2 separate regions of the Homo sapiens genome follow, and region 2 is linked to region 1. The links come from fine-mapping of genetic effects on gene expression. Tissue or cell type: whole blood. Region 1 holds a variant in brackets; the other region holds the start of a gene. All regions are shown on one strand. Distances are between the middles of the regions.

The links. PIP is the estimated chance that this variant, and not a neighbour inherited with it, causes the effect.
Region 2: it holds the start of HECW2, and the variant in region 1 is fine-mapped to the expression of HECW2 in whole blood (INTERVAL, PIP above 0.99).

Annotation. Positions count from the first base shown.
Region 1 is chr2:196,239,776-196,247,882 of GRCh38, reverse strand. HECW2 (HECT, C2 and WW domain containing E3 ubiquitin protein ligase 2) reads left to right here. Exons shown (of 29, transcript NM_001348768.2): 20 at 5,679-5,799; 21 at 7,321-7,434. Among named protein-coding and RNA genes, the nearest start is that of HECW2-AS1, 16 kb to the left of the region's middle. RefSeq lists an enhancer at 6,625-6,674. The variant T/C (reference allele first, on the strand shown) is at 3,109.
Region 2 is chr2:196,588,887-196,596,985 of GRCh38, reverse strand. It overlaps HECW2 (HECT, C2 and WW domain containing E3 ubiquitin protein ligase 2), which reads left to right and starts at 3,432. Exons shown (of 29, transcript NM_001348768.2): 1 at 3,432-3,478. RefSeq lists silencers at 3,474-3,743, 3,824-4,203.

The DNA of each region.
Region 1 (8,107 bases):
GCCATGCTGGATCAGGCTAAGATCCAGCCCCTGTCCAATACGGAGAACCAGTGCTAGTCATCAGAACAGTCCAGGTTCTGGGTCACACACCCAGAATCAAAAAAGACTGAGACTGCCCGGGAGTTGGATGCCAAGCTATTTCTAGTGTCTTCTGAAATATTTTGTCAGATAGAATTCTTTAGTTTGTATATGATTATGCAATTTTGTAACAGTATATGAAAATAGGGTAACACAATATAGAAGTTCTTTAGACCTGCCTAGCAATGACAAAGCAAAAACTCCCTAGTGTCTGTTACTGAAATTTTTTCCTGCACAGTATTAGCAAAATGCTGACTATCCATGAAGTCAGCCCTTCATTTGATGTAACATTGATCTTTTGTACCTGATTTTCTTTAAGACTGTAAAGACCATAAAATTCCTCTGTCTACAAAGTATTATGACCTAGAACTTCACTTGTAGTTCTCACACAATTTTATTAGCGCAATCTTCCAAGAACATTTTGTATTTCCAAAGTGGAAGTAACATCATTCCTGCTCTGGAATTTCTTGGCAATTATACCTCACTTGTATTAAGAATTTGACAAAGGCCAACAGCATAATTTACTGTAATTTTATTTATTTATTTATTTATTTTGAGACAGAGCCTCACTCTGTTGCCAGGCTGGAGTGCAGTGGTGCGATGTCGGCTCGCTGCAACCTCCGCCTCCTGGGTTCAAGTGATTCTCCTGCCTCAGCCCCCCAAGTAGCTGGGACTACAAGCACACCCAGCTAATTTTTGTGTTTTTAGTAGAGACGGGGTTTCACCATGTTGGCCAGGATGGTCTCGATCTCCTGACCTCATGATCCACCGACCTCAGCCTCCCAAAGTGATGGGATTACAGGCGTGAGCCACCGTACCCAGCCAATTTACTATAATTTTAAAATGAAATAATGTGTAAATGACTTCTTTCATGATGGAACTATGAGCAAAAGAATTTTTGCATTTAACAATTGCTGTCTCAGAGTTTTTATAATTAAATCCCTTTACCTAGAGTATAAACAGAATCAGAGCTAATTTTTATTGTGTCTGTATTGATATTGATGGAATGCATTATGGCATTTCCCACGTCCTTTTAAGCATCTCAAATTATATAGGAGTAGTTAGTGTCTGTGCTGTTTTTTAAAGTAATCAGCTCTTAAAAAAACATGTTTCTTGGCAGGGCACAGTGGCTCATGCCTGTAATCCCACCACTTTGGGAGGCTGAGGGGGGTGGATCACAAGGTCAGGAGATCGAGATCATCCTGGCTAACATGGTGAAACCCCGTCTCTACTAAAAAAATACAAAAAAATAATTAGCCGGGCGTGGTGGCAGACGCCTGTAGTCCAAGCTACTCAGGAGGCTGAGGCAGGAGAATGGCATGAACCCGGGAGGTGGAGCTTGCAGTGCCCGAGATCGTGCCACTGCACTCCAGCCTGGGCGACAGAGTGAGACTCCGTCTAAAGAAAAAAAAAAAGTTTCTTTTGTGTCTTAAAAGATTTTCGTTCAGTTCCTTGTTCTTCATTTTTCTCTCTCTTATCAATGATTTTGCTCTTGAAAGTTGATTCATTACAGCTGCGTTCTGCCCTGTCTGGGTTTTCTAGTCTGCAGTTTCTCAGACTGGAGCACTGACACTGATTGTGCCACCCTTGAGTGGACTTGAACTGCACGGTCCTATCCCTCATTCATCTAGGAGAGCAGCCTTGTGTTCATGGAGATAATGTTCCTTCGTGTTGCAAATTATGCCTTTCGGTACACAGGAAACATTTGCCCTGTGTTAGTCCCTGGATGCTGCCCATGTGTTTCACTGGTGATGTTTGACCTTCTTATAAGGGAATAGTGGTTCTCAGCCATAGCTACACATTACACATTGGAATCATCTGGACAGTTGTATTTAACACTCATGCCTGGGTCCCACCCCACATTCTGGGTCTTTACACATTTTGTTGTAATGCATCTTGGGTGTGGCCTGAACATTGGAATTTTTAAAAGCTTCCTAAGTGATTCTAATGTGCAGTCAAGATTGAGAACCCCTGCCTAGGAGTCTCTTCTGCTTCCCAGATCTTTAAAGTCAAGTTTATTCACTTGCTTTATGACATAACTCAGCTCTTTGCCCAGCTATACAAACAGATCTCCAGACAGATTATTGGTCAATAGCCAGTTTTGTACAAATTCATTAGTAAAATCTCAATTCATTTCCCTGTCTTTAGTATTCACCTCTATGCAGATAACAACAGCTAACACTTACGTGGGATCTCTTATGCAACAGTCACTGCATAAAGTGCCATAAACACACTAACTCAGCTCATCCACACGTGTGGCCCTGAGCTCTCACCCCAATTCCAGCCCTGTATTTTTCAGTCTCTAGGGCATTTTGTTAGCTGTCATATCCAAGTCAATATGTATAAAGTTTCACATGCCCTTGTCCACCTGCATCACTTCCCACACTCTTCATAGCATCAGGTAGATAGACTTGGCTCAAATCCCAAATCTACTGTCACTGGAATATGACTTGGACAGGAAACTGCACCTTCATTTTCTTTAGTTGCAAAGTGGTGTGTGATGGTCCTAGTAATACCCGCTTCGTAGACTTGTGAGGATTTCTCAAGATCCCCTGTGTAACGTGCATCATCTGTAATGTACAGCAGGCGCTTAACAAGTAAGACCTGTTGTTATTGTTTAAATACACTTTATATTATCATCATGCTTCCCATTCTTCTTTCTTGCTTATCTATTCTTTTCCCAGTGCATATTTCACATTGTAGATGTTTCTCTGAGTCACTCACTCCAGTCTAGTCCTTATCCCCTCAGGCTTCAATTACTGCAACAACTCCTAACTGGGGCTCTTTCCTCTTGCCCACCCTTAATTTACTCAACACACTCTGAAAATAATTTCTTAAATAAAACACCATTTGTATGTTATTCTTCTGCTCAAGAACCTATAAAGGCACTGTTCACTGCATCATGCCCAAACTCCTCTGCTAGGTTTTAAAAATTCTTGTCATAATTTGGCTCCAACCCTTCTGATCAATTTCATTTCCCATTTACTCCCAGCACTCCTCCTCCACTCTAGGCTAGCTTGGTTCTCTTGG[T/C]GTCTTCTGAACACACATGCAGTGCTCATGCCAGCTGTTGCTGCTGTGTTCCACTTTAGGATATAAATTCTCCTTCTTTTGCAAGGTGTGGTTCCAATTAAGCTTCCTCCCTAAGGCCTTTTCCACTTTGATCTCTACTTATACTCATTTCTTTTTTATAACATTACTATTACTTTTGTGTAACACTGATCTTAACAAATGCTTGCGGGGCTTGGGGGGCAGGCAGCCATGTCATTGAGTGGCTGCCGCAAAGTGGTGAGCTCATGCCTCGTCTAACAGAGTAGCTGCAGCTGCCCGCTGGATCCCCAAGGAAATGCAAGCCAGTCATTGCAAGATTTCCCAAATAATTTTCAAGAGAAAAATCTGGAATTTTTAAATTTGAAATTTAATTTGTAAATGTTGGCAATTAATTTAAAATATTCAAAAAAGATTATGGGGCAAGCAACTGGGATCTATAGGACTAGGTATAGCCCCAGGGGTATAGCTTTGTTTCCTCTGCTTTCTAGTCTGTATACCTAGTTCAGGACTTAATTATTCTCTAATTGTTTGATGTTTTATTTCTGTTTCCCCAACCCACTCCAGCAACCCCACCTTACTCATTTTGGACATCCATTGGTGAACCTAACATAGTATTCCCAATGAATAACAACTATTTAGTTCACTCATTTGTTAGAGACATTTTTAATGAACTTACATGGTATGTAATGAACAAGACTTCCCAGCTTTTGTTTTCTGGTTTCTTTCATTGGTTGGGAAATATTTAGTGGAAATATCCAGTGTTTTTGTCATGGCTCTGTGTCTGATTTCCATATTCATCATCAGTTTTCTATCCCAACCTGCTGCTTGTGTTACCCAGTGACACAAAACCAGATTTTTCTATGGAAAGAGGAACAATTGGCTGGGCATGGTGGCTCACGCCTGTAATCCCAGCACTTTGGAAGGCCGAGGTGGGCGGATCACCTGAGGTCAGGAGTTCGAGACCAGCCTGACCAACATGGAGAAACCACGTCCCTGCTAAAAATACAAAATTAGCTGGGCGTGGAGGTGCAAGACTGTAGTCCCAGCTACTCGGGAGGCTGAGGCAGGAGAATCGCTTGAACTCAGGAGACAGAGGTTGGGTTAGCCGAGATCACACCATTGCACTCCAGCCTGGGCAACAAGAGCAAAACTCCGTGTCAAAAAAAAGGAAAGAGAAACAATGTTACTTTTACATATTATTAGTGATAATTACCATTGAATAACGTATAAAATATGCTTATATAATCTAGATATTCTCAGTACTTGGCACATGTTAAGAATGCAATAAATGGTCTGGCGCAGTGGCTCACACCAGTAATCCCAGCACTTTGGGAGGCCAAGGCAGGTGGATTACCTGAGGTCGGGAGTTCAAGACCAGCCTGACCAACATGGAGAAACCATGACCCTACTAAAAATACAAAATTAGTCGGGCGTGGTGGCACATGCCTGCAATCCCAGCTACTCAGTAGGCTGAGGCAGGACAATCACTTGAACCCGGGAGATGGAGGTTGCGGTGAGCTGAGATTGTGCCATTGCACTCCAGCCTGGGCAACAAGAGCGAAACTCCGTCTCAAAAAAAAAAAAAGAATCCAATAAATATTAATATTATTTATTCTTTGTGCAAGTGCGCACTTTGTGCAAGTGAGACAGGTGCCTTTTGCAATTATGTGTTATATTAAGATTTTACCCTGCAATATGAGATTTATGTAATTATGTGTCTAAAATCATTCTTGGTGATAGTGCATATCTAAAAGAAGTTTTGTAGGCCAGGTGCGGTGGCTCACACCTGTAATCCCAGCAATTTGGGAGGCTGAGGTGGGTGGATCACCTGAGGTCAGGAGTTCCAGACCAGCCTGGCCAACATGGCAAAACCCTGTCTCTACTAAAAATACAAAAATTAGCTGGGCATGGTGGCAGGCACCTGTAATCTCAGCTATTTGGGAGGCTGAAACAGGAGAATCACTTGAACCCAGGAGGCGGAGGGTGCAGTGAGCCAAGATTGCACCACTGCACTCCAGCCTGCTGGGTGACAGAGTAAGACTCCGTCTCAAAAAAAAAAAAAAAAAAAAAAAAAGTTTCATGAGGAGTTTTTTGGTGAGGAATTTAGAGTGAATGATTAAAACCTCACTCTTGGTGCCACTTACTTATATACCATGTACTTTCCATTGCAACTTCCTGTCTAATTGCCATGATATCATTTCAGCAGCAAGCAAAGACATTTCATCCTAACAGTTACTACTAGACATGAGTAACTCTGTTTGACTCATATTAGTTTCGACTGAAAAGGGGAACATACTTGAGAAACACATGGGCACCATTGTAACTATTCAAACAGAATTTTTATTCTCAACCAAAATGCCACAAAGAGGACGTCACTTAAGACCTTGGTTGAGGTTTGTTATATCCTTCAACTTGCAGAAATCAAAAATGCAGAAGTTAAGACAGTTGCCTCATTTGACTTGTTGATTGTGATAGCTTTTGTCCATGGTGATGTGATGAACATAAGGACGAGGCACAAATCCAGATTGTCCTCTCTTTGTGGTTTGCTGCAGGTACCCAGCGTGCCAATGCCCGGGCTCCAGCCCCTTACAAGCGGGATTTCGAAGCCAAACTGAGGAACTTTTACAGGAAGTTAGAGACTAAAGGATATGGACAAGGCCCAGGGAAGTTAAAGTAAGTCAAAGTGACACAAACCACATAATGTATAGATGGTGAAAGGAGAGGGCACAGTTGGGCCTCTAGGAAATTGATTGTGATTTGGGATGACTAGCCTTCATTTTAGTCGGCATAATTATTTTGGAATTTGTAAATTATAGGATCATCTAAAACATAGTCCTGGAATGAAACATGATTAAGCTTAACATTTTAAAACAAATAGTGAAGACACTGCCACTTTTCATGCAAAAATAAAGGCAAAATAAAAGGCTGATTTATTTTTTTCCTCTGAAAAGTATGTCTTTGTTGGTGCATAGTATATTCATTAGCTATAAAGCTATCCCAATGTCCTCCACTGCAAGTTTCTGTCTCCTGAACTGACCTGAGTGTAGGAATAGTGCTCAGCTCTGTTCAGTTCTGTGAAACAAACTTCACAGCAGAACATGTCATGAATGTTGTTTCGGCCTTTCTTCATCCATCTCCTCCTTTCAAATGGGGAAACTGAAACATCATCATGTTGTTTGGCCTAGAATTGTTTCCATTCCCTACTTACCCTTCTTTCTCTCCTCCCTGCCTTCACCCCTGTCCCACGTCCCCACTGGAGATCAGTCTGCCACTGAGAGAGGACAGAGGAGGGACGGTCTCCACTGGAGCACCCCTGTGACCCTGGGTGCCTGAGAGACGGTCCAGAGACCAGACCAACAGCAGCCCCATGGCTCACTGCCCCACCTGCAGGAAGGCTTGCTTGATTAAAATCCACCTTCATTGCCCTAAAAAATCATCTGCCTGCCCAAACACCATACTTCTCTGAGCTTTACTTTTCTCACACTTAACTTACAAAGGTCTAGGATGATCCAGCTGTCATGCATTCAGCCTCCCTATCATCTCTCTGCCCATTACCATTTACATTAAGAGCAAATTGATATCTATGGAAGGATGACTTTAATTGGCATCATCACAAGTAGATTAACCTGCCACACTCATCATTCATTTGTATCTGTCCCTTAGGGACTGTCAAGATTCACTTAATTTAACAATTAACAATTGGAAACTCCTCTGCTTTGGAGGATATTGAGAATTTTTTTTTTCCTCTTTGTTCTCACAGTCATCTTGCTGGGCACTTAATAATTGAATTCCTTGTCTACATGCATTGAGACTTAAAACATTGCCTCATAGAGTTGTTCTTGCTTTACTAAACAAAATGTATGGGCGGGGGGCGGTGTGTGTGGTGTGTGTGGTGTTGTTTTATGATCATTTTTTTTCTGGGATAAACTGATTTGACCATTTAGATAGGATTCTCCGGTTGTTTACACTGGTCATAGGTAGGGTACTCTACCAATGATTCTCTCATGTAACTTTTGCTAATGCTATTAAGAGTTCAAGACAAATGTGTACTTTATTGCAGACAGCAATGATATTAAGTAACATTCTTCTTACCTAGTTAATTGTGGCAAATGGAAATGTTCTAGAAAGATAAGTAAATTATCTTTAATAGTATAGTAATAATTTGTATTTTCTAAATTGTCTCTTTATGGACAGGTTAATTATCCGAAGAGATCACTTACTAGAAGATGCTTTTAATCAGATTATGGGCTACTCCAGAAAAGACCTGCAGAGAAATAAGCTATATGTCACCTTCGTTGGGGAGGAAGGGTGAGTAGAACAGAGAAGTGGCCTGTGGAACATAGGCTGTGGCCACAAGGCGGATGTTTCTCCACGTCGCTGTGGTTGCCTGAAACAGGAAATCCTTCTGCCAGGAAGTGCTGTTCTCATACACTTAAACCTTTGGGCTTTTTTTTTTTTAAAGGTCTCCTCTGGCTTTTAAATCACTTGACATAGAAATCCTTTAGTAAAAACTTGTAGCTTTAGATCATTTTTGAGAACAGAAGCCTAGTTCAGTTTCTTCTCTCCGGACCTCTCTTTCTCTTAAAGGGAAAAAGTAAGGCTTTACAAGGAAAAAAAACAAGGAATTGCATTTATGCAATTCCTTTGTGATCTGTGATCTTATTTTCTACCCTGCAGGGCTAGGTAGAACGTGCTTCCTCTATTAAATAAGTTCAGTTTCAGAAACATGAATTAGAATCTTGCTGTTCTACCCAGAAGCCTCCACAGAAGTAACTCTTGGGCCTTGGCTCTTATTTCTCTGCCTCCAGTTTTTCTCTTCCCTTGGGAAGGCAGCACACCTACCAACATTACTACCTAACATAAACAAACATGTCCCGCCTTCCATGACTCTTCCATGAGTGTGCTCGTCAAGATAAGGGTTAGGAAATGAAGCGGGGAAGACTCCTACACAGTGTCTGTTGTGCCCAAATAGACATAACTG
Region 2 (8,099 bases), 350 kb before region 1:
TATTAATACTTGGTGGTATAATTTCCATCCCTTTACCTTTGTGTCACAACACTGAAGGGCCCAAGTGACTGTCTTTGCACAGTCAAAATAGACATCACTGTCACAACTTTAATGCCCACAGACCACATAAATGTATTCCACTTAACCAATTCAACTTCCCTTTAGCCAGATCCCCACAAATGTCCACAATCACTCCACTTCTTTCGGAACAAGGGGAATTAGGACAACACGGAAGTTAGAATGAAAAGGGACAGCAGTCTTGTCTTAATTCAAGCTGCAATAACAAAGCATCCTAGACTGGGTGGCTTATGAACAACAGAAATTTATTTTTCACAGTTCTGGACGCCAGAAGAATGAGATCAGGGTGCCAGTGTGGTTGTGATGTGGGTGGGAAGGCCCTCTTCCAGTTGCAGACTGCCATCTTTTCTTTGTATCCTCAAGAGGCAGAAAGAGGGTGAGAGAGCTCTCTTGGGTTTCTTTTATAAGGGCATTTATTCCATCACCTCCCAAAGGCCCCACCTCCTAATACCATCACATTAGGGGTTAGGATTTCAACACATGAATTTGGGGGAGCACAAACATTCAGTCCACTGCAAATCGCTTGAGATTAAAATATCTTACTTTGGAAGCTTTTATAAAAATATAAGACCACATGAACATGTCTCTCAGGCTCCTTCTGTGTTGTTGGAAGAGGGCTGGAGTATAAGTTTCTTGGAATCTGCCTTTGGGTTTAGCTTTGGCCATATGCTTTAGAAGGAGCAGTCACAAACCTTGGCACATCTGTAGAAAGGAAGTAACCTAGGATGATGAAGGGTCAGGACACATTGCCATGTGTCCTGCATGACTTATGGGTCATGCAAAGATCTTGGAAAAGAGACAATTCAAGTGGTTCACAAGTTTGTCTTCAGTGCTTGGAGTACTCTCAGGTGGAAGAAATATTTCAACTCAATATAAGGGATCACTTCCTAATGTCAGGCCAGTTTCAATGCAGAATTGACCAGCTTGTAAAGTACTGAGTTCTCTTTAAGGGAATGGCTCCAGGAGAGGATAAGTGAGACCCGGTCAGAGATCTTGTGAAGGAGAGTGGTGGTGATGACGAACGGGGAGTGCAGTGTGAAAGAACCTACCTAATCTTTACACACCTTTGCAAGTTTGAGATTTTTAGGATGACTTTGCTATTAATGTTCTTTGATGCCTTAGTCTCGGTTTTAATGGTCGATATGTAGAAAGTTTTAAAGGTAGTAGGGGCTGCTTTTAAAGTGAGAGAAAAATGTTTTTTAAGACCTAGGGCAGCAATAGTGATTCACTTTGCCTCTATTCATTTTTAGGGTTCTTCTTTCTCCCTCCTTTCCTCCCTTCCTCCCTTCCTCCTCTTTTCTTTTCTTTCTTTTTCTGTTTTTCTTTTCTTTCTTTCTTTTTCCTCCTCCTCCTCCTTCTTCTTCCTCTTCCTCTTCTTTTTTGACAAGGTGACAGGGTCTTGCTCTGTCTTCAAGCTGGAGTGCAGTGGTGCAATCACAGCTCATTGCAGTCTTGAAATCCTGGGCTCAACTGATCTTCCTGCCTCAGCCTCCAGAGTAACTGCGATTACAGGTTCAGGCCACCATGCCTGGCTATTTTTATTTTTATTTCTTTCTTTATTTAATGTATTATACTTTAAGTTCTGGGATATATGTGCAGAACGTGGAGGTTTGTTACATAGGTATACACGTGCCATGGTGGTTTGCTGCACCCATCAACCCATCATCTACATTAGGTATTTCTCCTAATGAGATCCCTCCCCTAGCCCCACAACCCCCGATAGGCCCCTCCTCCCTGATGTGATGTTCTCCTCCCTGTGTTCATGTGTTCTCATTGTTCAGCTCCCACTTATGAGTGAGAAAACGCAGTGTTTGGTTTTCTGTTCCTGTGTTAGTGGGGTCTCACTATGTTGCCCAGATTGGTCTTAAACTCCTGGCTTCAAGAGATCCTCCTGCCTCAGGCATGATTACAGGTGTGAGCCACTGCACCTGGCCCATTTTGACTAGAATGTAACATAGTGGTTAATCAACACAAAGAAGCTAAGGATTGCAGGTGTGGGGTTGCTGGATTTGAGTAAGTTGTGAAGGAGAACATCATGTGGGAACAAACCTCTAGGATCCCTGTTCTTCCAGCAAGAACTGGAATTGGGCCTTTTGTGGGGTGGGGCTCTTTGATTCTGTGGAGGATCCTAACAGTGATGCCTGGGCTGATAGATCCAGGGGACTAAGAAGTCAGGGCTCCTCTGAGACATGTGACAAAACACAGCTGACACTGACTTGAAATAAAAGAGAGAGGATTTATTGGCTTCAAGGGTAGAGTTCACTGCAGACACATCTACCTCCTGAGGTTCCTGAGAGGGTGGGACATCACCCTCTCACCAGCAGCTTTTCTTCCCTCAAAGTTGGCTTCATTGGCATGCACTGTTGGTCCTTGTTACCGTAGGCTTATATCCTTCCAATTTAGTTATCCTAGTTTAAAGAGCTTATTTTTCTGCAGTAATACATCCAAAGCCCTAGGCCGAGTTCCTGGATCAACATGCCCAACCCAGAACCGATCACTGCGGTCCGGAAGATGACTGGCTAGTTCTGGGGGTTGAGGGTGGGAGGTGTCAGTACCCTGGAGCCACAAAGACTCATTGTGGGTGAGGGGGAAGGGCAGTTCCCATAGGAATAATGAACTGCTGTTACCAGAAAAGGCGGAGAAATGGATAATATTGAGCACACACTCAAAAGTCCCAAAGGAATGGCTATCCATTATTTGGGGACTTACTCCATATGGATATAGTTAAATTGTAAAATTGAATAAATCTTCCCTAAATCTGGACAGATGCAAGGGTGGGTGGGGAGGGACACAATATATTTACACTTTAGCATTTTTACTTTTTCTCCTACGTGGGACTGGTTGATGAAGATGCTATAGAAGTAAACAGAAAGCCGAAAGTATTAATACAGTAATTTTAAATTTTAGTGCCCTCTTTAGGCAAAGTATCTGGGAACGCTTTCAATAATCCATTTTTTCATCGTGACCACACCCTGTGTGTGCGACATGAGTATTACCGTCTTGCCCTTGCAGTTGGGGAAACCGAGGCATGACACTCCCCTATTCAGCTTTCTGGTGGGGTTGAGGAACAGTGTTGTCTGCACGACCTCAGAGGGTCTCCTCCACCCTCCGCGACACCTCTAGGAATCCTCCTGTCCTTCGACTTCGCAGAAGGAGAGCAACTCAGGCTCCGCCGCAGCCTCGGGACTCGTCCTCCGCCCAGCCGCACCCGCCCCGTTCTTCCGCACCTTCCTCAGGGAGGTCCCGCTGGCCAAGGTCTGGCTGTCCCTCCTGTCCTCTGCCCCCGCCTCCCTTCCACCGGTCCCCGACGTGCCGCCAGCTCCCAGCCCAGCGTCCCGCAGGGCGGTGCGGGCAGATGCCGCCGAAGCGTCTAGCGGGAAGGGCGCCGGCGCGGCTGGAGGTGAGGAGGCCGGACTCTTCGCTCTCCGCGGACCGGGGCACCGCGGCTGGAGCGGACGCCCGGCACCCGGGCGGGAGGAAGGTGGCGGCAGGGAGCGGCGAGAGGGTGGCGACGCAGGCGGGTCGGCGCCTGGAGAGCGAGCGGCGGGGAGCCGGGCGCTGCGGGGCCGCTCGGGGCCGCGCCGCGCTCGGCCACAAACCTCCCGGAGGCGCAGGACCCCCGGCGCCCTCCCGAGCGCGGGCGGGAGCCATGGCTTCGCGCGTCCCCGCTGCCGCTGCTGACTCGACACAATCGGCGGGTCGCGCGGGGGCCGTGGCGTAACCCGGGGGTGGGTGGCGGCGCGGAGCCGCCTCGAGAGCTCTGGGTGTCGCTGGGAGCTAGGAAGATGCCAGCACAAAGGCGAGCCGAGACCCAGCCCGCTGCGGAGGGCGGCGGGAAGAGCCGCTGAGGGGCGCGCCGAGCGCGCTCTGCCCCTGCGCCGCGTCTCTCCGGGCGCTTCTCGCGGTCTCGGGGTCGGGGACTGCAGCGCAGAGACTCTCGGCTCCGTGGCAGCGGCCGCAGCAGCCGTGAGCTGCATGCAACGCGCGGCGGCGCCCCCGGCCGCCTGCTTTCTCCTCGGCGCGCACGGACCGGCCGCAGGGCGCCGGGGCCGCGGGTCCGGGCGACTTTGGGGGCGCCCTCCCGCCCCGCGGCCGGGTCCCCACCCGCAGCTTGTGGCGACGGGCGCAAAGCCCAGGTGAGCGCGCGGCCCTCGCCGCAGGTAGCGGACGGCGGGAGGTGGCTTTGTTTTTCCTCCCTTGCGCCCCGGCGCGGTCATTCATTTGCCATTTCGGTTTCCGCTGCCCAGGATGTGTTGGATGGTTTGGTTCTCCAGGGAAACTGGGACTTTGGGGTCTATTTGAGCATCAGTTGAGGGAGAGGACGCTTCATTTCCTTTTTGGTTGGGAATGTGCCGTGAACATCCTCTGCTGGAGCTTGGGGCCTGGAGCAAACTGGGGCTGCAGATTTAGACGTAGACGTTTCCGAGGACGCGAGACTGCAGAGGTCTGACTCTCTCATGCCTTGTCTTCACTATTAGCAGCGCTCGGGTGCTTTTCGTCGTTTATTATTATTAATTTAGAGAACATCTTTACAGGCACATTTCTTTTAGAGTTAGAAGTCTTTGGAGTCAGTACAGAGAGCTCACAATTAGAGTTACAAGGGTTCAATCGATATTAAACTTCAGGAAGGAAAACATTTGTGATCATTACAGATAGAGGTGGACAGCATGCAAACTTCGGGGGCCTTTAGCTTTTGGGTTATGATTTCTGCTTTCACTGTCCTAGACTCACGCAAACTGTTTTCGTATATATATACCTTTGTGAAAGTGTGAAACTTGTCTTTTCTGGAGTAGTGTTCTATAGTTTGTCATTTAGAAGAAGAATATTTTAGTGTAATTAGTAGAGCTCTCCATGTGTTTGTCTTATAAATATGATTTTCTTTTTACTATTTCTCCTATTCCCTCGAGGGTTCATTTCTTCTGTTGCTTTGAGAGAGCTTTTTTTCTTTCTCTTCCCAACAGATGGCTGTATGTTCCAAGAGGTTATCTTTAAAATGACACACACATTATCTACAAAGAAAGAAAGATCAGTTATTGACTTTATCTTTGGAGTTATTAAAATAAAAGGCCTAATCTGGATGGGGATATTATTAATGGCGTGAAAATCTGGAGTTTGCTAATCTGTTTGGTCATCAGAAGATTCCTGCGGGGATTGTTTATATAGCGTGGGAGACAGATGGCATCCCTAGCAGACTAGAGAAGCCAGGCATAAAGGGTCATTGTATTCTTCAGAAATTATCCACTTCACTATTAGAGGTGGGGTAGGGTGGGGTGGAGGGTGGCAAAGACATTTTGATCTCTTAAAGGAGACACTGTAACGTTACTATCCAGCAGTCTAACCAGCTTTAATTTTTCTTTTTGTTGAACATTCAAAAAGTCCCAATTGAGCTATTTGTTTTGATTATTTCATTGGCACATTTTGGCTTCGATGTGGTTGTGTGAAGCAGTTTATTAACAAAAATGTCTTTGAACTTAAAAATAATCGTGCTGCTTCTGGGGGAAAATCAGTTGCACCTTTCTTAGCTCTTGTATATAAATGGCCCCTTGGACTCAAACCGTCTTCTGGCTGGAAAGACTTTAGTCTTCATTAGTTTGAATCCAGTTTCCTTCACCATCTCCGTGACAGGTGATTTCCAAATCCCCACCATTTGGCCGCAGACTCTGAGGTTTGGGCACCATGATGATTTCCCAGTCTAAGACATTCGCTTCACCATCGCCTCTATCACGGTATTGGGCAACATTTGGCAATGAATCTTTATGAATGGCTGTGGTGTCGGTAAAGAAATCAAAATCATTCTGAACATTTGAGATAAACCAGCTGGAGCTTTTCTGCGCCTACCACTGTTGTGGATTATCTATGTGTTGTGTAGATTGCAACCAGATCACAAAGCTAGTTTTCCCTCTTTATGAATGTGAAGGAAAATATTCCAGTAAATTAACATTTGCCAGCCACAGGACTAAATTTAATGAAGATTATGAGCAATGTTTGACCCCTCTGAACAGGAGACAAAAAATAAAAGTAAGCACTGGTTCTGTTTCACTTGGGCAATGTGATCTTGGGAGAAAAACCTATATTTTCTTACTCTTTTAAAAGGCTTTTGCAACACTGATTTCAGCCAAAGGCAAAGAAACCAAGGTTGTTACCTGTAGTTGAGGACAGATGCTTTGGCGTTTTCTCCTAGATGAATGTGTTTTGCAGGAGAGGTGGCTTTTGGGATCTTCCCAGTTTTAATATGTGCCTACACATCAATGAAATGATCTTGCATTCAAAATGCTTGTTAAGTCTATATGGTTGGTATCTGTGTAACCTCTAACCAGGTGGCTTTCTCTGTTGTGAAGTGTTCCTTTAAGAGAAACCAGAGGCTTCTCGCCTGGGGCTTGCTGTGGGCCTGGCCTGGATCCACATTCTTGTGCATTGCTGACTACTTTCTTGGGAAAAACTGGAACCAGTTTTGCTTGGTGTGTTGGATAGGGAATGGCAGCATTGGGTGAAAACCTTTCCAGCTCTGTTATCAAAAGCCAGGCCTGGCCTGAAAGAGGGAGGACTATGTTTGAAGTTTGATTGATTTAACAGAGGCAGAGGTTGCTTCATTACACACAGGATGCCTTTTGTATCAGGATATGAATGAGAGATTAGAAAGGTGACGAGATGCCCTGCTTTGCTTGTGACAGTGCCAGTTTACTCCTGTTGGTTTATCTTAATTATCAAAAGCACCCCCTTTCACATGTAAAAGTGTCCTGGTTTGGGTGATAATTATCTGGTCACCCTAGATATTAAGGAATCCTGAATTTTTTTCATCACCCCTCTTCCGACACCAGATTTTGAGTCTTGCCTTATTTCAGTCTTTTATTTATTAAATGCAAAGCTAGAAAATCAGAAAAATTTAAACCTGAAAAATATATAAGAAAAAATGAAATAGGAGGAAGGAAGATAGGAGAATGAGATAATTGCTTGTCATCTATTTACACACATAGTGAATAAAATAGTTTTATTCTTAAGTTACTAAGCATCTGCCGTGGCTGTAAGCCCATATTATTATTGTCTTCAAGCACAATATGAATTAACACCTGTCCATATATCTAGAGCTGACACTAATTGGGACAAATCCTTTGATTTGGGAGAGCAGTTTCTACAAAACCTGTTTGCAGACCTAGTGGTTACCATGGCTCTTAGAGGTAGGAATGCAAGTTTCAAGATCTAGTGTCTGGTCCAGATCTTGGATATTTACTGAGATTCCAGAACACAAGTGTTGTTGTGAAGACTTGATTCCACATTCTCTTAGTTTCCAAGCTCTCAGGGCCATGAGGATAATAGGAGGGCTTTTGTTTTCTGTACTCCCTTGTGTCTCCAGTGTTTGGTTTGGGTCTCAGCTTTTCATACAGAGGGGTCGCAGAGAGGGAGAACTGTTGTGTCTGTTCACCACATGAAAATTCTCTTGGGGGTTTGAGATTGTGCAGGTGACCTGGCAAGGGTTTGGATTCTTTACCCAACTTAGATATATGAAGTTTGTGGCATTTGCTTCTGCAGTAGTTGCTATGCTCCTTTACCAAAGAATTGTGTGTTTGTAACACAGCTCACTTACTATGTTGGCCAGTGGATGTTATAATTAATTATGGCTGTCACCTTTCCCAAACTCACTCCACTGAAGTCCTCAAAAGCTTGGTCAGCATGTCTAAATAAGAAGAAATTTATTTATTTATTTATTTTTTGAGACAGGGTCTCACTCCGTTGCCCAGACTGGAGTGCAGTGGTGCAATCTTGGCTCACCGCATCCTCCGCCTCCTGGGTTTAAGCGATTCTCATGCCTCCGTCTCCCAAGTAGCTGGGATTACAGGCACGCACCACTACCATCAGCAAATTTTTGTGTTTTTAGTAGAGACAGGATTTCACCATGTTGGCCAGGCTGGTCTTGAACTCCTGACAAATGATCCACCCTCCTCGGCCTCCCAAAGTGTTGGGATTACAGGTGTGAGCCACCGTGACCGGCCTATGTATCTTTTTTATAAGTAGGATGACTATGT